Linked DNA regions of Homo sapiens. The protein of the gene in region 1 purifies or fractionates together with the protein of each later gene. This does not show direct contact. Each region holds a gene or a part of one and is shown in the gene's direction. Other genes may lie near its edges. The genes, in order: DUSP19, ACAD11 and TCEA1.

What was found.
Region 2: the proteins of DUSP19 (region 1) and ACAD11 purify together in Homo sapiens (affinity purification with mass spectrometry; 3 studies listed by BioGRID and IntAct, with this or other methods). This does not show direct contact.
Region 3: the proteins of DUSP19 (region 1) and TCEA1 purify together in Homo sapiens (affinity purification with mass spectrometry; 2 studies listed by BioGRID and IntAct, with this or other methods). This does not show direct contact.

Annotation. Positions count from the first base shown.
Region 1 is NC_000002.12:183,081,289-183,089,079, forward strand, and holds part of DUSP19 (dual specificity protein phosphatase 19), read left to right. Parts: intron 1-2,219; coding exon 2,220-2,266; intron 2,267-5,751; coding exon 5,752-5,904; intron 5,905-7,791.
Region 2 is NC_000003.12:132,572,263-132,580,053, reverse strand, and holds part of ACAD11 (acyl-CoA dehydrogenase family member 11), read left to right. Parts: intron 1-495; coding exon 496-562; exon of another isoform or gene 563-1,172; coding exon 1,173-1,258; intron 1,259-3,038; coding exon 3,039-3,110; intron 3,111-4,127; coding exon 4,128-4,282; intron 4,283-7,791. UniProt on the Homo sapiens protein: Acyl-CoA dehydrogenase, that exhibits maximal activity towards saturated C22-CoA.
Region 3 is NC_000008.11:54,012,247-54,020,037, reverse strand, and holds part of TCEA1 (transcription elongation factor A protein 1), read left to right. Parts: intron 1-7,791.

The DNA of each region.
Region 1 (7,791 bases):
AGGGTGGAGTGCAGTGGCACGATCTTGGCTCACTGCAACCTCTGCCTTCCAGGCTCCAGCGATCGTCCCACCTCAGCCTCTGAATAGCTGGGAATACAGGTGCACACCACCATGCCTGGCTAATTTTTTTGTACTTTTTGTAGAGATGCGGTTTTACCATGTTGCCCAAGCTGGTCTTGAACTCCTGGGCTTGAGCAGTCTGCCCGCCTTGGCCTCCCAAATTTCTGGGATTACAGGCATGAGCCACCACGCCTGACTAAACCACCAAATTTCAATTATTTGAACCTATTTTTTCCTCTGGAGTTGGTTAGGGCTTTCTACATTAGAAAACAGAATTTTAAAAAAAATTATGAAGTATTTCAAATTTATAGAAAATTACAGAAACTAATAGACAATTATGTATATACCATTCAGCTTTAACAAATGTTAATATTTTGATAGGCTAACTTTTAAGTATAATAAAGCTGAATGTGAGCTCAGTAGCGAACCTGTAAGCTTGGTATTATCAAGAGGATATTGGCCAAACAGCATACTTGCTGGCCTTTCAGCCACCTAAAATCACATAATAAAAGTTGGCTGAATTCCCAGATGGGTAACTTAAAAAAAAAAAAAGTTTATGAAATAGAACCTAATTCAGGAAAGTAAAATACTTGAAATCTTTAAACTGTGAAACTCACTTTATTTTGACTAGTTATTCTCCATATGAACTTGCTTATTAACTAGAGCCAGTTTCCAAGTGTGGGAGATCTGGGAAGCCGGCTGTGACAGAAAGAGATTGTAGAAGGGCACAGCCCTAGTGATACATGGAGTGTGGGTGGGATCCTGCAGACCAACAGCATTTGCTCTAAGCTACTGGGTGTTCCCAAACCAGCTGGCACAAAGTCATCTTGTGGGTGTGTGGTTTTTGTAATATCCTTTTTTAAGTTACAAAATAAAGAGATGTTTATTGTAAAAAGTCAGAATGAGCATAAAGAAGAAAAAAAAATCACCTGCAACCCCATTGTTAACATTTTGTTCTATGTATACCTCCTTTCCATTTTTTAAGCATATACATATTTTTTGTTGTTATAAAAATGGATGATGGTATTTTGTAACCTGCTTTTATAACCAGATACATTGAGAACATTTTTCTTTTTTTTTTTTTTTTTTTTTTGAGACGGAGTCTCACTCTGTCACCTAGGCTGGAGTGCAGTGGCACGATCTTGGCTCACTGCAACCTCTGCCTCCCAGGTTTAAGCAAGTCTCGTGCCTCAGCCTCCTGAGTAGCTGGGATTACAGGCATGCACCACCATGCCCAGCTAATTTTTGTATTTTTAGTAGAGATGGGGTTGTGCCATGTTGGCCAGGCTTGTCTCAAACTCCTGACCTCAAGTGATCCACCCACCTCAGCCTCCCAAAGTGCTGGGATTACAGACAGGAGCCACCACTCCTGGCCAAGAACATGTTTCCATGCTATACATATTTTACCACATTTCTTCTTTCTCTCTTTCTCTCTCTCTCCCTCTCTTTCCCTTCCCTTTTGTTCGTTCGTTCGTTCGTTCCTTCCTTCCTCCCTCCCTCCCTCCCTCCCTCCCTCTCTCTTCTCTTGTCTTGTCTTGTCTTTTCTTTTCTTATCTTTTCTTTTCTTTTGTTTTCTTTCTTCTGGCTGTGTCACCGAGGCTGGAGTGCAGTGGCATAACCATAGCTTACTGTAACCCCGAATTCCTAGGTTCAAGGGATCCTCCTGCCTTAGCCTTCTGAATACCTGGGAATACAAGCATGCACTACCATGCCTGGCTAATTAAAAAAAATTTTTTTTCTATAGACAGGGTCTCACAATGTTGTTCAGGCTTACATTTCTTATTTCTAATGGTGGTAATGGCTGTATGTATTTCACTACACAATTATACCATTTTTTATTTAATGCAACAGCTATTATTGGGCTTTTAGTGTTCTTTTGTTTTTGTTTTGTTTATATTACAAACAATACTATGGTGAACATCCTTACAGCTAATCTTTGCAACATCTATAACTTTTAGGACAAATTTTTAGAAGTAGGATTTCAGAGTCCAGGAGTTTATGTAGGATGACTGTTATCAAATTGCCCTTCAGAAAGTTGGACTAAGGTCCTTCCAAGTTGTTGGTCTTTTTTTTTTAATAACAGAATTGCTGTAGAAATTTATATAAAAGTTCAAGATGATTATATTTGTGTTCAAGGTGGTATCATTTATTTCTTCTAGGGTCACAAGATGCTGCTCATGATTTGGATACACTGAAAAAGAATAAGGTAAAAAAATGCTTTAAGTCTGGCACCATATACACAGAATATTTTAATTGTTTTATTTAGGAAAAACTGTATTGGTCCATCTTTGGTATATTATGGAGTTTATTTGGTAACATTTTGGCTATCATTTCAATAGAGTTGAAAAATAATTGGCACATAATTCAAATATGTGGATCTGTAATCTGTCTTTCCAGTTTTACATTCTTCTTGATCTCCTTCATGTACCCTCATGAACCTGACCTTGGAGGCATGTCTTTCTTGCCTGTGTTTATGTAGTTCCTCTGTGTGGGATAGACTTTCCCTCATCTCTGCTTGTCCAAGACCTGTCCATACCTTAAGTCCCAACTCACATACCACGTCTTCTGTAATGCCATTTCCAGCCACTCTACTCCATACAACTGATGTGATTTATTACATATTTACTCAAAAGGATTTTTAGCCCTCTACCATTTTTTTGAGTACTGTTTCAGGTCATGGAATTGCTGTAGGTGAAGGAGTGCAAGAGATTCTTGTTCACTTGAAGCGTATGACCTAAGGGGCAGACAGAGAAGAGAGACAAGCAGCTACCGAACAGCGTTTGTGTGCTTTGATGGGGAAGTGCAGGGTGCTGTAGAAGTGCATAGGAGATGATGCTCTTAACCCATGTTTGGTTTGGTTTGTTTTTGGGGGGATAAGTGAGTCAGGGGAGACTTCCTGGAGGAAGTGATATTGAAGTATTTCTCTGAAGAGGCTAGGAAAGGAGTAGACAGCCTGTAATCCCAAGGCTTTGGGAGGCCAAGGCAGGAGGATTGGTTGACCCCAGGAGTTCGAGGTTACAGTGTGCTATGATTTTGCTACTGTACTCCAGACTGGGCGACAAAGCAAGACTCTATCTCAAAAAAAAAAAAGAAAGTAAAGTGTTCATACAGAATAAATGATATGTGTGAAGGCCCAGAAGCAAGAGAAAGGTGGATGCTTTCAGGGACAGAAAAGTTCAGTGACCCTGGAATAGAGAGTGTGAGAAAGAAGGGCACCAAGAGACAAGGCCAGAGAGAGAGGTAAGCATGAGCCAGATCACAAAAGGCCATGTAAGCCAAAGTTAGTTGTGTGGACTTGATCCAAAAGACTATGGAAAGCCACTGAGAAGTTACCCAGAGATGTAACAAGGTCAAATTTGCAGTTCAGAAAGATTTCTCATTAGAAGCAGTGTGGAAAATCGATTGGAGGGTTGCTCAAGTTAGAGATGGGGGAAACTGGTTATAAAGCTATTGCAGTAATCTAAGGAAAAGATGATAATGGCTGAGATTAAGATTTAGTGGAGATAGAATTAGATAGATGTGAGGGGTTTTTTAGAGGGTAGAATTCTTAAAATTTGATTACTTATGAGGCAGGATAGGGAGTGGGGCTAAGGGAGAAGGAGGAGTCAAGGCTGATGTCTAGCTTTCTTTGGTAACTAAGTAAAGTTATCGTTCCATGAGATTGAAAGCAACGTAGAAGGAACAGGCTTTGAAGGAGAAACAGTGTGCTCAGTTCTGAACATGTTAGGTTTTGGGTGATGTGGATCATCTAGGTGGGTGGATATGTAGGGTCTGAAGTTCAGAATAGAGGTGAATATATAGATTTAGGAATCTTCAGCTTTTAAGTAGTTACTGAAACCATTAGAATAGATGAAGCTGCCTGGGGAAAAGTGTAAAGTAAGAGAGAAGAGGGCCTATGACAGAATCTTATCACAGAACTGATAAATTGAGGAATATCACCCTATATGGAATGATCAAACAAAGAAGAGTCCGCAGTGGGAAAGGAGGATCTAAAAGAGGCCCAAAGAAGGTAAAACAAAAAGATGGTGTCATGGAAACTAAAGAGAATAGTGTTTTAAGGAGGAGAGAGTCAGCAATGTCAGATGCTGTAAAAGTTTAAGTACGATTAGGACTAAATTATATCCATGGGACTTGGTGACAGAGAGGTTGTTAGTGCGTTTGGTGGAAACAGTTTCATTTGAATTGGAGGCCAAAGCCATATTGCAAAAGATTGAGAAGTGAGGAAGTGATGGCAAAGGGAAAAAAAAAAAGAGAGAGAGGAGCCATAGGTGAGGAGGGGGAGGGGAGAGCTTTGAGCATGTTTTAAGGCTGATGGTAGAAGAAGGAATTGAAGATACAGAAAAGCAAGAATTATGACTATAGGGAGATGCCAAGAAAGTAGGAAGCACTGTGACTCCAAGCACAGGTTCTGGAATGAGCCTTATCGAAGATGCACGAGCACATCCTTCATTGTAATCAGAAGGCAGAGGGGAAGTACAGATGTGGACAAGGTTGTTAGGTTTTTTTTTTTTTTTTTTTTTTTTTTTTTTTTTTTTGAGGCAGAGTCTCGCTCATTTGCTCAGGCTGGAGTGCAGTGGCATGATCGTGGCTCACTGCAACCTTTACCTCCTGGGTTCAAGTGATTCTCAGCCTTTGGATTATCTTAATGGACTGTCTGCCTGGCTTTCTTCCACATGGTTGGTGGACTCTAGGAAAAGGGGCTCAAATACATAGATGCAAGAGGAGGAGGTTGCTCAAGTGTACCATCTGAAAGAAAATATTTTACAACCACACCTCCCCTTACTTTTCAGCCAGATTGGTTCATCAGAATCTCTGGGTATGAGACCCTGTGTTATTGATAGTTTTTAAGAGTTCATCAGGTGACTCTAATGTGCAGTCATCCTGGAGAACCATTTTATAAAGTAAAGAATATGAAGGAAAATAGGGAAATAATTCTTGAAAGGGAAGTTGTATACCACTGATACACTTCTCCTATTTAAGTTTTTATATGGATATTCACAGATTAATTCAACAAAGATTTTAAGCATTTTCTGCTAAACTCACTGCTCATTCGCTTATAACACTAAGTTAAACATGGTCCCTACCCTCATGGAGTTTCTAGTGCAGTGAAAGAGAAAAACAATCTCTAAATGGCATGAGCTATAATAGGGCAAGTCCAGGGCTATGAAAATATATAGGCCAGGTGTGGTGGCTTATACCTGTAATGCCAGCACTGTGGGAGGCGGAAGTGGGAGCATCACTTGAGGCCAGGAGTTCGAGACCAGCCTGGGCAAAAAAAGTGAGACCCGCCCCCCTCTTCTCTGAAAAAAAAAAAAAAAAAAAAAATTAGCTGGGTGTGGTGGTACACGCCTGTAGTCCCAGCTACTTGGGAGGCTGAGGCAGGAGGATCACCTGAGCCTAGGAGTTCAAGATTGCAGTGGCCTATGATTGCATCATTGCACTCCAGCCTGGGTGACAGAAAGAGACCCTGTCTCTGCATGATGATAATAATAAGTTAAAAGAGAGAGAGAGAGAGAGAAAACATATAGTAGAAGGAGCACTTCTGGTGTGGGATTGAAGCAGTATTATCATTCAAGTGAGTCGCATTTAAATTTTTTACCTTTCTTGTTATAGATATCAACACCCCAGTCTCTTTTTAGGTAACCTAATTCATGGGATTTAAAACAATCATCTTTTTTCTTTCTCTTTAAGGTGACTCATATTCTTAATGTTGCATATGGAGTTGAAAATGCTTTCCTCAGTGACTTTACATATAAGAGCATTTCTATATTGGATCTGCCTGAAACCAACATCCTGTCTTATTTTCCAGAATGTTTTGAATTTATTGAAGAAGCAAAAAGAAAAGTGAGTTTTGTTTTGATCCATAGTTCTGCAGAAGCAGAAATTTGAAAGTGTGGATCCATTACCCAATCTTTATTATTTTTATAATGAATCTCTAAAAAACAATTATGAAATTTCCCTTCTAACAATATTTCATTATTTCCTACAATTATTTGGTTAATTGCTCTTTTTTCAATGAGATGTTTAGTTTCAACATTAATTCAGACTATAAAACAGAGACTGCTCTAGACTTGTTAGTGTATTTATGATGATTAATATGCATTTGATTTTAATGAATGAGATAGTTATTGTGAAACTATGCATTTTTAGCAGTAAAATTTTAAGGCACTCTAAGGACTAAATGTGTATTGCTTTACTTAGATTGTATGAAAATGCTGATCAGAAACTGTCTGTTGGTTTTCTGAAGTTAGAAGACCAATAGCCAATGTCATATAGTACTTCAGGCTTGTTATTGAAGTCAACATTCTGACAGGCAAAGTTTCTAGGTTGGCTGTTATCAACAATTATTCCTTGAAATGTCATCATTTTTAGTCAGCAAATAATTCTTACAGACTTTATGTAAGATACGTAGATGGGAAAGTAGAAGCATTTACAGAGAGAAATAACTCTTCTGGAACACCTAACAATGACAGGATTACAATCAGGTTTAATTGAACTCTGGCCTACCTTCTCTCCCTTTATCTTTTCTCCTTCCCATTTTCTCTTCCTCTCTCCCTTCTTTCCTTTCATTTAGTAATATTTATTGAATGCCTTAGGTGCCCAGCACTGTTCTACGTGCCTTCCTACTAGACTACCCAGAAAATATAAAACTATTCAATTCTACTGTTCATCAACTTTACTTAATAGCAGATACAGTCATGCACTGCATAATGATGTTTGGACTGCATATATGATGGTGGTTCCATAAGATTATAATAATGTATTTTTACCATACCTTTTCTATGTTTATGTATGTTTAGATACACAAATACATACCATTGTGTTACTGTTGCCTACAAGTCAGTACAGTAACATCTGAACAGGTTTGTAGTCTTGGAGCAATAGGCCATACCATTCTAGGTTTGTGTGAGTGCACTCTGTGATGTTTACACCACGAAGAAACTGCCTAACAACACATTTCTCAGAATGCATCACCATTGTTAAATGATGCACGACTGTATTTGGATGGAAGCAAAGGAAGAGGTTTTTTTTGTTTTTTGTTTTTTGTGTTTTTTTTTTTTGTTTTTTTTTTTTTTGAGATGCAGTCTCACTCTGTCGCCAGGCTGGAGTGCAGTAGTGTGATCTCGGTGCACTGTAACCTCCGGCTCACTGCAACCTCCGCCTCTCGGGTTCAAGTGATTCTCCTGCCTCAGCCTCCCAGGTAGTTGGGACTATAGGAGCACACTGCCACACCCGGGTAATTTTTTGTATTTTAGTAGAGACAGGGTTTCACCGTGTTGCCCAGGCTGGTCTTGAACTCCTGAGCTCAGGCAGACCACCTGCCTCAGCCTCCCAAAGTGCTAGGATTACAGGCATGAGCCACTGCACCTGGCCAAGGGAGAGGTTTTTTAATTCAAAGCCTAATATTGGCCATTCTGTTTTCTTGTTAAAAAATTTACAGGCTCTGGATTGTAACATTCCAGTGTGTGAGTTAATAGTTTTAAAAATAAAAAGGATGTTTCTGTATTGGCTCCTTCTCTAAGGAGATGTAGAATATGCCAGAGATGGCAAAGTATAGATATCATCCATATTCATATTAACATTAGAAGAGATGTAAATGTTGCAAGTAAAAATTAGAGAGGTTAATCATATCTAGAAAGAAAAGCAAGAGATTGAATATTCTAATAAGCTTGGAATTTTAAATAAATTTAAAAAATAAAGTTTGCCTTAATTTGGGCCAGTAAATTAGAG
Region 2 (7,791 bases), on another chromosome or scaffold:
AGACCCTTGTAGGCAATTGCCACAGACCCCTGAACTGTGATAAAATAAAATTTTGCATTAAAATGAAAAAATATTTTTAAAATTTGACCCTTAAGAAATTAATAAAAGAACCAGGCTTATTGAAAGTGGGATCACAGCCTCATATACGTTGACATATAAAATATTATATTAGACATATAAAATTTCTCAGCTTTTCTAGCATGCTGATGTCTGAAATGGTGTAAATGGGAGAGGTGGCAGTTCTTTCATGCTGCTTTGACTTCTGGTTATTTTTGTGTAGCAGCTTTCATTGATGGGGTCCATTCTTGGCCTTGCCTAATCATTTTTCTTGGATGATATAGAGTGTTACAAAAGAATTATTATCTTAATGAATCAGGAATGTTCTCTCTATTTGTTTTCTGACATAGGTAAAGTGGGAAGGATTAGAACCTTCAAGGTGAAATGTCAAACTAGAAATTTCCTTTTATAATCTGCTTGTGTTCCCCTTGGTTTTAGGAGCTGGGAATCCCAAGTGCAAAATTGCAATTGTTTTGGGAAGAACTCAAAATACTTCTCTCTCCAGGTAATTAAACAATTCTGATTGAGAAACCTGTGTAGGAATGAGCCAGTCTTCCTCCTATCTAGGTAATTTACTTAAAATTCACTGTTTGGACTCACAAATCATAATGTAAGATATGAGAGTAAATGTCATATATTTGTATTTCACAAGTATTTTCTAACAGGTGTTTTTGGAAAACATTATAGGGAGTATTGCTGAACATTCTTCGCTGTGGAATTTTCAGTATTAGAAAGTGTTGCTAAATTATCAAAGCTGTTTGGATTAAATTATCAGACAAATTTTTTCAGACCTGTGTAATGAAGTGATTAGATGTTTAGATCAAAGGCAATAATCTTGAAATGTTTAATTATATATATAAGTTCCCAGTTACCATTGTTGAGCAGTGAGAAGCTTCAATCAAACAACTCATTTATTTTCAAATCATTGTTTCTGTTCCAGATCACAGCCTGCATCAGACTATGTTGGTGTACGTCTTTTACACAGTTCCCATTCCAGTCATCACTGCTTACATGACTACATGAAAACATCAAAAAGACAATTGTGATTCTGCTTATTATCTGTTTTATTTTTCTTCTTAGCAAACTTTTTCTAATACAATTTTTCTTTTGACTAGACACAAACAGCACAGCATGATTCTTGTTCCCATGAACACACCTGGAGTAAAAATAATAAGGCCTTTGTCAGTTTTTGGCTACACAGGTAGGTATCCAATAAATATGACCATGCATTAGCAAGCAGGAAGGCTAGAATATGCAGTAACATTGAAGGCAATAGCATTTTAATGCATAAGATAGATTCTTAGATATTCCTTTGTCTGTGACAACTGTCTTAATATAAATGCTGGTGGAGTTCAGAGTAGAGCCAATAAAAAGAAATAGTATAGCATTTATGTAATTTATAATTATATAAATTATAGAATTTATAGAATATAAATTCTGCCTTTTTGGGAAAGGGCAGATTGTATTTAAGGAAGAGCAACACTACCAGTCTTTTCTCTGTCATTCATAAAAATGGATTAATGCACAGATAATCCACAATAAAATTATTTTTATCTCCAATTTTAGCCCTCTTAATCAATCAACTTACAAGAACTGTTAAAAAGCAATGAGTTTTTGACTTATTTGAGTGCAAAATTTTCCTTCCTCTGCCCTTGGGTGGGACTTCTAAGAAGCAAAGATCCATTTGTTTCCTGCCACCTACTGTGGCACGTGTTCATTGTGTACAATAAATATTTGCTAAGATCACCCTCTCAGCAAGTATTTGCTTAGCCACCATGCCCAGCTAATTTTTGTATTTTTAGTAGAGACGGGCTTTCACCATGTTGGCCAGGCTGGTCTCGAACTCCTGACCTCAGGTAATCCACCCTCCTCGGCCTCCCAAAGTGCTGGGATTATAGGTATGAGCCACCGGGCCCAGCCCCTGGCTTTCTTTTTATCATTGAATATGACTAATGAATATGTTCAAGTGGCAGATATAAGACTTGCAGTTTTATAGAATCACTTATCAGTTAAGATGCAGCTGTAGAGTATACCCACAGGGTAAGCATAGGTGGCAAGATGGGATGAGCAAGCTTGCTGGAGAAAATTGCATGTAGGAAATTGTTGGGTTGCAGCGAAACGGCCGCAAAGATACCAAAAATGCGTTTATAATATAGTTGAGCTGCAAATAATTTCCATTGCAGAGGCTACATTTGATTATTCAGTATGAAAACTTTACTAGCACCTCTCCAACTCCCTGTGTCCAGGGCCAAAAGAAACAGTGTGGAGAAGGCTGATTATTGTCTCCTCTGACAGGAAAAGGGTGTAGAGTTAGCATGAGATTATCTCTAAAACTTGGCAGGGAGAAGGGGTGATGCAAAGATAAAATGTGAACGTGTTCCTGGCCTCAGTGTTTCAAATGCCAGTATTTTCAAGAGACGAACACACAGTGGAACAAGTCTAGACTGGGAGTAAACCTACCTGAAGGTCTAGTTTCTGTATCATCACTAATGCCAAGCCTGCTCTTTCCCCTCAAGCAGGCCCCTGTCATCTTTAGGCGTTGGTTTCCACAATGATAAAATAAGAAACATGGATTACATTACTCATTTTTAATTTTTGAAACATTGAAACTTTTTTCCATGCAAATTGTTTGGAACCCCATATGTAAAATATTTCAAAGAAGCAGCAATAATAAAACAAATAAAATACTCTGGCTGGATCTATGGAGCCTGGTCTTCCTTTTTCCTAGCTCTCTGAAATTGTACTTCAGAGAATGAATTAGAAAACATCTGGATCAAAGGGTTTCTCTTCTTGAACAGTTGATGAGTTTTCTGGGCTGCTGGGTCCTGGGGTTCAGGGCTGAGGCTTACCTCAGAATGTTCATGCCATATGGATCTTTGAAATCCTATTTTCTTCAAGTAATTATATTTCAGCAGATTAAGAATATGTGACTCTTTTTTAGTCAACTCCTTTTGCTCTAAATTTTATTTTCTATTTTATAGATAATTTTCATGGAGGACATTTTGAGATCCATTTTAATCAAGTGCGAGTTCCTGCCACAAATCTAATACTAGGTGAGTTGAATTTGGAAATGATTCTTCAGTATTGTACATTAATATTTCAGCTCTAAATCTGGAAAAGATAAGTCTTTCCAGATTTAGACCTGAAGTCTACCTTGATTTAGATATTAGGTTCGTGCAAAAGTTATTGCGGTTTTTGAACTGCAATTACTTTTGCACCAAGGTAATTGCAGTTTTTGGCAAAAGCCGCAATTACTTTTGCACCAACCTAATACTTTCCCTTCTTGTTTACTCCATTTGTCAAGGGAAAGTTTTCTGTTTGGCGGATTTTCTTACATGGAATGGTGAGGTTTTATTTAAGTGTTGGATGTGGTTTTCTATATCACATCAATTGAAAAGATAATATGAAAATTATATAATTCAGAGCAATACACTTTCTCCTAGAACATGATCTGTAGGCCTCTATTTGTTTTAAGAAAACCTCAGTACTTTATGAATTCAAGTATTAGATATAAGTTAGAAGCATAAATAACTTTGAACACTGTATGCCATCCTCTTGCTTATTAGAATACTATATCCCTTTCAAAGAACATCTAGAATACCACCTCTTCCAGGAATGTTTTTGTGTTCATCCCATCCATTCACCAGGCCCCTGATACCTGCCAGGCCCTGAGGTTATAATGATGAACAGAAAATCTCTTCTTCCTTTGCCTTTGTTTCTCTCTGTATCTCTTACCCTTACCCACTCTTCTGGATTCTAAACTCCTAGTACAGGGACTATGTGTTATTCCAACTTTGTATCTATTGCAGCATTAATAAAATAGCTTATGCATAGTACATACTTAAGAGACAGTTCTGAAATTTGAAATGTTTAATGGTGGTGGTTTTAAAAACATAGAAATCAAAATTCCCATGAATTCATAGTGAACCTTATTATAGAACTGACTTTTTTTCACTAGAAAGCCATTTTTATTAAGGGCAGCTCATCTCTTTCCCAGGATTTGTATAAATAACAAAAGGAATGGGCTAGGCCATTTTCACATTCCCCCTTTTTTTCCCCTTTCTTCCCAGGTGAAGGTAGGGGATTTGAAATTTCCCAAGGCCGCCTTGGACCTGGCAGAATCCACCACTGTATGAGAACAGTAGGTTTGGCGGAACGCGCTTTGCAGATCATGTGTGAGCGGGCAACACAAAGGATAGCTTTCAAGAAGAAGTTGTATGCACATGTGAGGACGATTACTTATTTGAATTTATTGTAGCCCGGTGCACTACACTAACATTGAACAAAAACATTACTTGTGAGAGACAGACTTTCTCTACATGAACCGGGTGATTCTTTTCAATAAGGCATATTTATGTCTGTATTTAAATATAGTCTAATGAGAGGTATTTATCTTTATGAAAAATTAAATAGTTCCTAAAATGCTTCAACACCTCTGCACACAAGAGTGTAGACAGTTCCTTCAACTTTCTCAGATTCTTGTTCTTTAGAGAACCTGGAACATTAGAGCTCCCTGTGGACATGAAGGAGCTGTCATAAGGAAGAAGGATTTGCCTTGTCCATTGGTTTCCTAGAAGGAATTAGGACACATAAGTGTAAAGTTACAGGAAAACAGCCCAAAACTCAGGGAAAGGAGAAACATGCTAATAAACCTAAAAGTGGAATCAGCTTCTTCAGGAGGACTTGAATTCTGTCACTGGAGAAACACAAGTAGAAATGGGACCAACATTTTGTGAGATATTCATGACTTTTTGAATTATCATCTGTAAATTATATACTACTGAGTCTGTTGTTACAAATCACTGTAAACATAGTTACATGTGGCCCATATAATAAAAATTAGGAAATATGGCCAGGCGCAGTGGCTCACACCTGTAATCCCAGCACTTTGGGAGACCGAGGCGGGTGGGTTGCCTGAGCTCAGGAGTTCAAGACCAGCCTGGGCAACATGGTGAAACCCCGTCTCTACTAAAATACAAAAAAAAACAAAAAAAATTAACCAGGCATGGCGATGTGCACCTGTAGTCCCAGCTACTGGGGAGGCTGAGGCAGGAGTATTGCTTGAACCCGGGAGACAGAGGTTGCGTTCAGCCAAGATCGTGCCACTGCACTCCAGCCTGGCGACAGAGCGAGACTCTGTCTCCAGAAAAAGAAAAAAAATTAGGAAATATGTATTGAGATGAAATAGAAGGTATTATTTCAGACTTCCTTAAAAAGTCTTCTACAGAGAAGTAGGATATCCACATCATCTCCCTTCTAAGTTTTAAGAAGGCAAGAAAAACTATTATTAAATGTTCACTCTTTATTATTGCTAACATGTTAGTGTTAGGTCAAATCTGTGGTGATGGAATTGTATTTGTGTTTGCTGCACATGTATATTTTAGTATGTCGGTCTCCTTATACATTTTTGACCATCTTATGAAATTTGCAGTATGTATTTTTTACCTTAAATTATTATAATCTATGTTTGCTTTTTGTAAAGTATTATTCAGCATTATATGATTTATTTGTATAGTTTTTTAACTGAAAAGCTACAGCCCGCTTTATGACACTACACCTGGGAATAATTTGTCAGGAGCCCTTTTAGTATACAGCGAAGGCAAGTTTTTAGTATACAGCAAAGTTCAGCTGTTGGCTGGGCACTGTGGGAGGAGGTGAGAAAGTGTGACCCTCTGGGGCCCTGGATACAGCCTCTGATGCTGTTGAAGAAGGATGAAGAGGTGCTCAGGGCACCAACCATTACTTCTTACCCTTTTGTCAAGCTTGCATGCAAACTCTGGAGCAGGGTGAAGGGAGGACACAGTAAAGTCGACAAACAAGCATCGCGAATGCACAAAAGCCCTCTGTGCAAGTGCTGCTTTCCTGAGTGGTGTTTTAATACTGCATTAGTAAAAAATTTCCCTTCCACCTTTTAAAGTTAATGTGTCATGCAGAGCAAGCCTGGCTTTTTAACAAATATGCCTGTTTTCACTGGAAACTTTTCACATCTGGCACAAATAACGTGATCTGGCAGAAACAAAAAGATGTGTGAGCATGTCATAAGCAAAAATCTGGGCCAGCTTTTTTATTTTAATTTGTGAAAGGAACATTTCATTTCTTTGAATTTGGAGGCTCCTTCCAGCTGCCTTCTAATTTACTCCAGGCTGTAACGCAAAAAATTCTCCATCCCAGTTCTGTCTTAGGAAATATATTTGGCAGTTCCCTAGAGCACCTAGTTTCTACCCATTTAATGCTTTTCAGCAAATCTAGGGTCTATAGAGACCCAACTGAGAATACCTCCTTTATTCTAAAGCTGAGAAGTAAATGTCTTCTAAGTCTGTTCATGAAGTTATAAAGTTGTAATTATCCTGTTTTACAGCCATCAAAAAATATTTATTCACCACCAGCAACTTGTTTGAAATTAATTCAGAGCCATGTTTCAACCTCTAGGGCAGTGCCATCCAAAAGAAATATACTATGAACCTTAAATGTTATTTTAAATGTTCTAATAGCAACATTTTTAAAAAGTGAAAAGAAAAAGATGGAATTAATTTTAATAATATATTTTATTTAACCCAATATATCAAAAATACTATTTCAACATGAAATCAATATAAAAATTATTAATGAGATACTTTATATTTTAATATTTATTCTTCAATATGGGGTGCATATTTTATACTTATAGTACATCTCAGTTCAGACTAGGTATGTTTCAAATGCTCATTAGCCACATATGGTTAGTAGCTATCATGTTGAACATCACCGCTTTAGGGAAACTCTAATCAAATATCCCCTGTTGAAGGGCAAACATGACCAAGCATAAAAATGGCCAAGGTGTGCATGTTCTCACTCATAAGTGGGGAGATGAACAATAAGAACACATGGACATGGGGAGGGGAACAACACACACCGGGGCCAGTTGGAGGGTGGGGGCAAGGAGAGGGAGAGCATTAGGACAAATAGCTAATGCATGCAGGGCTTACAACCTAGATGACGTGTAGATAAGTGTAGCAAACCACCATGGCACCTGTATACCTATGTAACAAACCTACACATTTTGCACTTGTATCCCGGAACTTAAAATAATAAAGAAGAAAAGAAAGGAAAATAAAAGGACAATTAAACGTCAAAAAAATGGCTAAGATGTAAGGAAGGTGCGCAGTTTCAATCCCCTGCAGATGGCTAGCAAGTTATCCCAGCACCATTTATTGAATAAGGGAGTCCTTTCTCCATTGCTTGTTTTTGTCACCTTTGTCAATGATCAGATGGTTGTAGGTATGTGGCCCCATTTCTGGGCTCTCTGTTACATTGGTCTATGTACCTGTTTTTGTAACAGTACCATGCTGTTTTGGTTACTGTAGCCTTGTAGTATAGTTTGAAGTCAAGTAACATTATGCCTCCAGCTTTGTTCTTTTTGTTTAGGAGTGCCTTGGCTATTTGGGCTCTTTCTTGGTTCCATATAAATTTTAAAATAGTTTTTCCTAGTTCTTTGAAGAGTGTCATTGGTAGCTTGATAGGAATAGCATTAAATCTATAAATTGCCCCAGGCAGTATAGTCATTTTAATGATATTGATTCTTCATATCCATGAGCATGGAATGTTTTTCCATTTGTTTATGTCATCTCTGATTTCTTTGAGCACTGTTTTGTAGTTCTCCTTGTAAAGATTTTTTACCTCCCTGGTTAGCTCTATTCCTAGGTATTTTATTCTTTTTGTGGCAACTGTGAATGGGATTGCATTCCCGATTTGGCT
Region 3 (7,791 bases), on another chromosome or scaffold:
GTTCTCAAATCGTCAACAAATTTTCAGATCTTTTGTAATGAGTCTGGAAGAGAATGAGAATAAACTCCACAAATAATCCTCAAATCTAAGTTTTCTTCTCAAATCTAAGTTTTCAGGTAGTTCAAAACTTTTCCAGTATGAAAACTTGCCTCCCAAAAAGAAAGGTAAAACTGACTGGCTCTTGTACTTTTGTTTTCCCCAGCATTTTCCCTGCCTGTCCTCTGGAAATTCAAACAGGCTGATGAAATACAGAGAAAGAGAAATGGTCAGAATGACACTCCTCTTTTCCCCAACTGCATCATCAGCCTACAGATGGCTTTTTAAGTGTTCAGTAATTCAACAAAATGTGTTTTAGGGGTTGTAGAATTATGGTATATGTGTTTCTCTTTTTTTCGGTAGTTTTCAGATTTTTCTCTCAGCTTTTTTAATGTTTTATATTATGAAAAAGTTAACTTTTTTTTTTTTTTTTTGAGACAGTGTCACTCTGTTACCCAGGCTAGAGTGCAGTGGTGCAATCTCGGCTCACTGCAACCTCCGCCTCCCCAGTTCAAGCGATTCTCTTGCCTCAGCCTCCCTAGAAGCTGGGACTACAGGTGTGCACCACCATGCCTGGCTAATTTTCGTATTTTTAGTAGAGATGGGATTTCAACGTATTGGCCAGGCTGGTCTTGAACTCCTGATCTCAGGTGATCTGCCCGTCCTGGCCTCCCAGAGTGCTGGGATTACAGATGTGAGCCACTGCGCCCAGCCTGAAAAAGTTAACTTTGAAGAGTAATAGTTGTCATCAGAATTGACAAATTTAAGTGCAAATTTAGATATCATTTAAAAAAATATTTTAACATGCTGCTGCTTTACCTGAATAATTTTGTTTTACTAAAACCATAGGTGTCACACTTAACTAAAAACAGCTTACCATTTATTGAGCTATTACTCTGAGCCAGGTATTCTGCTAAATACTTACCCACCTTATCCCATTTATTCCTCAGGCAACTTTGCAAGATGAGTATTATCCTCATTCTGAAAATGAGGATGCTAAGTATTTAGAATAGTCTTAAGCCAAATAGCTAGTGAATGGCCAAGTGAAGATGTGAATCTAAATCTGTTTTGCTCCAAAGCTAGTACTCCTCTCTTAAGCTACAGTGTCTCTCTAGAAGACCCTTGCATCTGCTCTTGAACCATGCATGGATACAATTAAGTGAATACAAAATCAGGAAGTAAGAGTATGAACTTGCTGTTTTGGGGCAGGTGTGTTTCCCTAGTTACCTAGATCAATATCCTGACCCTAGTTCTACCCAAGATGTTGTCCCACATGTGTACTTGATCTCAAGTGCACATGACCAAGCCACAGTGAACCACAGAAAGTAGTTCGAAATTTTTAGGTATTAGCTGTTTTCTGCTTAAGCTGTTTTCTTGTCACTTTGATTCGGTGTCAGTAACCAAGTCTGACTGCTAATGTGGGTTCAAATCCTGGCTTTTCTGAACTTTTCTGAACTTTAGCTGTGTGATTTTAGGCAAGTTCTTTGTCATCACTAAAATGTTTCTCGTCATGGTAAACTGGAGATAATTTAGTAAGGATTAAGTGAATATAAAATGCTTCTAGTGTAGGATTGTGGGCCTAAAGGATGTAATAAGGCCTAAAAAACAATCTGAGGTTGCCTTTCTTTGTAAAGGATTCATTTAGATTATAGAAGGAGGAGTGAGGCAAGGACATAAAGTTTTGAAGTTCATGGAGAGATTTTGTGGGTAGTGCTGAGGTTTATTTATTTATTTCATTGAAGGCTCAAGGTTGAGTGGAATTAAATTGCAGGGAGAGAAATTGAAATTAGATGTTAGAATTTCGTAGGAGCTGGGATACCTGAAATATTGATTTACATTTCCAAGTACCTCAGTTAAAATAACAACTGCAACAAAACTTTGATATCTATATCAGAGTTAGATTAATTAGCATAATTCAAAATTTAGAATGACTATACAATTTTTAATAACAGCTTTATCGAGAAATAGAATTAAATTCATTCTTAAAGTGTAGTTGACTCTTGAACAATGCAAGGGTTGTGGTGCTCACACTATCCCCCCTCCCTACCCGCATGCAGTCAAGTAGTATAACTTTTGTAGTAGTATAACTCATGCAGTCATGTCACTCAGGCTGGAGTGTGGTGGCATGATCTTGGCTCACTGCAACCTCCGCCTCCTGGGTTTAAGCAGCTCTCCCACCTCAGCTTCCCGAGTAGCTGGGACTACAAGTGCGTGCCACCACACCCAACTAATTTTGTATTTTTAGTAGAGATGGGATTTTACCATTTTTCTCAGGCTGGTCTCCACATCCTGACCTCAAGTGATTCACCTGCCTCGGCCTCCCAAATTGCTGGGATTACAGGCGTGAGCCACTGAGCCCAGCCTTTTTTGGGTATTTTTTATAGAGATGGGGTTTCACCATATTGCCCAGGCTGATCTAGAACTCCTGAACTCAAGTGATCTGCCTGCCTTGGCCTCCCAAAATGTTGGGATTATAGGCACTTAGCCTGGGTGACAGAGCGAGACAATGTCTCAAAAAAGAAAAGAAAAGAAATAAAGGAGAGAAAATATGTTTACTGTTCATGAAGTGGAAATGTGTCGTCGTAAAGGTCTTCATCCTCTTTGTCTTCACATTGAATAAGCTGAGGAGAAAGGAAGAGTTGGTTTTGTCATCTAGGGTTGCAGAGGTGAAAGAAAATTCTCAGGTGAATCTGTGCAGTTTAAACCCATGTTATTTGAGGGTCAACTGTTAATTCAGTGGCTTTTAGTGTATTTACGGGTTTGTGCAACTATTACTACTGTATAATTTTAGAACATTTTCATCACTCCAAAAAGAAACCCTGTACCTATTAAGCAGTCACTCCTCATTCAGCCCTCATTTGCCCCCACCAATTTCTCACACGCCTCTGACAGCCACTAATATACTTTCTGTCTGTGTGTTTGCCAAATCTGGAAATTTTCTGTCAGTGAAATTATACAGTATGTGGTCTTTTGTAACTGGCCTCTTTTGCTTAGTATAGTCTTTTTTTTTTTTTTTTTTTTTTGAGACGGAGTCTCATCTTGCTCTGTCGCTCAGGCTGGAGTGCAGTGGCGCGATCTCGGCTCACTGCAACCTCCGCCTCCCAGGTTCAAGCAGTTCTCCTGTCTCAGCCTCCCGAGTAGCTGGGACTATAGGCGCGCACCACCACACCCGGCTAATTTTTGTATTTTTAGTAGAGATGGGGTTTCACCATATTGGCCAGGCCGGTCTCAAACTCCTGACCTCATAATCCGCCTGTCTTGGCCTCCCAAAGTGCTGGGATTTCCACGCGTGAGCCACACCGCCTGGCCTGATTTTTGTATTTTTAGTAGAGACAGGGTTTCACCATGTCGGCCAAGCTGGTCTAGAACTCCTGATCTCAGGTGATCTACCCGCTTCAGCCTCCCAAAGTGCTGGGATTACAGATGTGAGCCACTGCACCCAACCACGATTTGCTTATTCATTCATCATTTGGTGGACATTTGGGCTGTTTCAGCTTTTTGGCTGTTGTGAATAATACTGTTAAAAACATTGCTGTACAAGTGTCTCGCTCTGTCACCCCGGCTGGAGTGCAGTGGTGTGATGGCTCACTGTAAGCTCCGCCTCCCGGGTTCCCACCATTCTCCTGCCTCAGCCTCCCGAGTAGCTGGGGCTACAGGCACCCAGCACCATGCCCGGCTATTGTATTTTTAGTAGAGACTGGGTTTCACTGTATTAGCCAGGATGGTCTCGATCTCCTGACTTCATGATCTGCCCGCCTCGGCCTCCTAAAGTGCCGGGATTACAGGCGTGAGCCACCGCGCCTGGCGACATATGTTTTCATTTCTGTTGGGTGTATACCTCGGAGAATAATTACTGGGTCATATAGTAACTATGTTTAACCTTTTGAGGAACTGCCAGACCTTTCCAGTGTGGCTGCACCATTTTACATTCCAACTAGCAGTGTGTGAGGATTCCAGTTTCACCTCATTTTCACCAATATCATTTGTCTTGATTATAGCCTTCCTAGTGGGTGTAAAGTGGTATTTCATTGTGGGTTTGATTTGCATGTCCCTTGTGATTAACAATGTTGAGCATCTTTTCATTGCTTTGTGGCCATTTGCATATCTTCTATGGAGAAATAAATGTCTATTCAGATCCTTTGCCCATTTTTTAGAAAAGAGTCAGGGTCTGGCTATGTTGCCCAGGCTGGAGTACAAATTGGATTAGTCCATTTTTAAATTGGGTTGTCTTTTTATTATTGAGTTGTAAGAGTTCTTTATATTCTGAATACTAGAACCTTGTTAGATATGCTGATACTGTCTCCCATTCTGTGGGTTGTCTGTCTGCTCTTGGTTGTGGCCTTTGAAGTATAAAATATTCTAATTTTGATGAAGATGAATTTATATATATTTTTCTTTTGTTGCTTGTGCTTTTGGTGTAGTTTAACTGCAAATTTGAGATGACATAGTAATATCATAAGTCCTAGCTTTATAGTGATGTTATTGAGCTACAACTCAAATATCTATAATTCATTGTTTAAGAAAATAGATAATGGGCCAGGCATGGTGGGTCACACCTGTAATCCCAGCACTTTGGGAGGCTGAGGTGGGCAGATCACGAGGTCAGGAGTTCAAGACCAGCCTGGCTAACATAGTGAAACCCCATCTCTACTGAAAATACAAAAATTAGTTGGGCGTGGTGGTGGGCGCCTGTAGTCCCAGCTGCTTGGGAGGCTGAGGCAGGATAATCGCTTGAACCCAGGAGGTAGAGGTTGCAGCGAACTGAGATCACGCCACTGCACTCCAGCCTGGGCGACACAGTGAGACTGTCTCAAAAAAAAAAAAATGGATAATATCTTAATTCTTTAACCTTGAAATCTTATAATAATGCCTATGAAGAAGACATTATTATAGAAGAAGTAACTGTTTTACTTGATTGAGCTTAAATATGATCACTGAAAATGCTGGCTTATGGCCCCTGGAGATTATTGTTATGGTAGAAATAAGTAATTATTTGTATATTTTTGTACTCCTCATCAACCATGCTATGTGTCAGACCCTCTATTTTGATACTTTATCTGTGTAATGTTGCCTCATTTGGCTGTTTTAACTACTCAAGGTTGGTGTGTTATGCTCACCTACGTATAAAGAAGCTGAAGCTTGAAAAGGACAAATAACATTACCCAGATCTTGTAGTTAGCAAATGTCAGAGCATGGATTTGAATCTAAATCTGTCATATATGTACACCATATTCTTAACTATAAATCCCTATTACTCCCTCCTTTTTACATCTCCTTGAGGAGAGGGATGTTCGTATCCTACATGGTCTTGAGTATACTGAGCACATAGTACAAGTATCATGGTTTATAAAATCACTTGTTTTCTATTACCAGATAGGAGCACCAACAATGTAATAAAATAGTGTGATAGCTGTAGTTTATCTTTCAGCCAGTAGTGTGAACTAAATTTGGCTCTGGAAATTAAAGAAGAGTCTTTCTTTCTCTTGCATCATCTGTAGGAGATGCTACAATCTCATAGACTTGGACATGTATTCTTTTCTTTTCTTTTTTTTTAAATAGAGGTGGGATCTCATTCTGTTATCCAGGCTGGTCTCGAACCCCTGGGCTCAAGTGATCCTCCTGCCTTAGGCCTCCCAGAGTGCTGGGATTACAGGCTGAGCCATTGTGCCTGGCCTAGGCTTGACATTTAGAGCTAGGTGATGCTTGGGGAAGGCTAAAATACAGCTTCTTGTTTGGTGATACTAGTCATCTGAATTCACAAAGGAGTGCTGCCACTGGCGCACTGCTGGGGAAAGGGCAGCAGTATAAGGGTCAGGCGACTAGTTCATGACCTTACTACCCGTCAGTATGACCTTGGGCAAGTCACTTTTCTTTTCTGGGTTTAAGTTTCTTTTTTTTGTGTGTAGTTAAGGGTTTGAAATAGATGATTAAAGATTTCTGTTTGTTTTAAAATTCCCTGATGTCAGAAAGGGTTTCAGTCTTGCTCACTGCTGTATCCCCAGTACAGTAGAGCTTGGTACATTTGACATTACTGGAGTAGATCTTACCTTTTCTAGTTAGTAATCATAGAACCTTGTGCAAGTTTCTTGACATATTTCCTCATCTGTAAAATGGAGATAATACCTGCTTCTATAGGGTTTATGGTGAAGGTGGAATTAAATCTATGTGAAGTATTTAACAATGCCAAGCACATAGCAGCACTCAAAGTTTGTTGTCACCGAATTAATGTATGATTATCTGTTTTGCATTTCACTCATTCAGATCATCATAGTTATTTCTTTTTGTTTGTCTGTTTTTTGTTTTTTTTTTTTTTTTTTTTTTGAGATGGAGTTTTGCTCTATCGTCCAGGTTGGAGTGCAGTGGCACGATCTCGGCTCACTGCAACCTCCGCCTCCTGGGTTCAAGTGATTCTCCTGCCTCAGCCTCCTGAGTAGCTGTGGGATTACAGGTGCCCGCCACCACGCCCCGCTAATTTTTGTATTTTTAGTAGAGATGGAGTTTCACCATGTTGGCCAGGCTGGTCTCGAACTCCTGAGCTCAGGTTGATCCTCCCACCTCGGTCTCCCAAAGTGCTAGGATTACAGGTGTGAGCCACATGCATAAGCCACCGTGCCCAGCCCATAGTTATTTCTTAAAGACCCTTCAGTGAAATATTTATTTGAATTAGTTGGAACACAGTGCAGTTTTCAGAAAGGTCATAGTTTTATTCCGTGAGTGTTACTTTTAGCTTTTTATTCCAACCATGGCCTCACCAGAGAGCTGAGTAGAAAAGGAAAGTAACAAAATTAATGCAAATATATTGCCTCTACTTGGAAAACAATTTAAACTGTATGTCTCATTGCTGATATGTTGGAAGAATCAACTTAATACTTAGGAAACCCTGCTTTTTAAGGAACTTCTAGAAGTGTGATTCTTTACCCTTATTAAGAGATTCTTGGTCAGAAGTGGATCAGAAATCCTGGAAATGTGGATAGAAGAAAAATGTCAATGGTAAATGGAGAATACAGGCCCACAATCTTTTTTTTTTTTTTTTTTTTTTGTCGTCGTCGTTTTTTAATTTTTATTTTAGAAATGGAGTCTCACTCTGTCCACACAGGCTAGACTGCCGTGGCACGATCATGGTTCATGTAATCTCAAGCTTCTGGGCTCGAGCAGTCCTCCCGCCTCAGCTTCTGGAGTAGCTAGGACTACAGGCACTATGGCCAGCTAATTTTTTATCTTTATTTTTTGTAGAGAGGGGGTCATGCTGTGTTGTCCAGACTTCTAGAGTTTGTTAATCAAAACCCTTAGGGTCTGATATATTTGGTAATTCCAGATTTTTCAGATTTGATAAAGATAATTTGGTATATACATCATATATTACATAATACCCCCAGCAGGATTTGGGCACTTCAGCAACCAGACATTAACATTTCTTTTTTTTGTTTTGTTTTTTGTTTTTTTGAGACGGAGTCTCGCTCTGTCGCCCAGGCTGGAGTGCAGTGGCGCGATCTCGGCTCACTGCAACCTCCACTTCCTGGGTTCAAGCAGCTCTCTGCCTCAGTCTCCTGAGTAGCTGGGATTACAGGCACCCGCCACCACGCCCAGCTAATTTTTGTATTTTTAGTAGAGACAGGGTTTCACTATCTTGGTTAGGGTGGTCTTGAACTCCTGACCTCGTGATCCATCCACCTCGGCCTCCCAAAGTGTTGGGATTACAGGTGTGAGCCACTGCGCCCGGCCTTAACATTTCTGTAGTCAGTTGTAATAGTCACA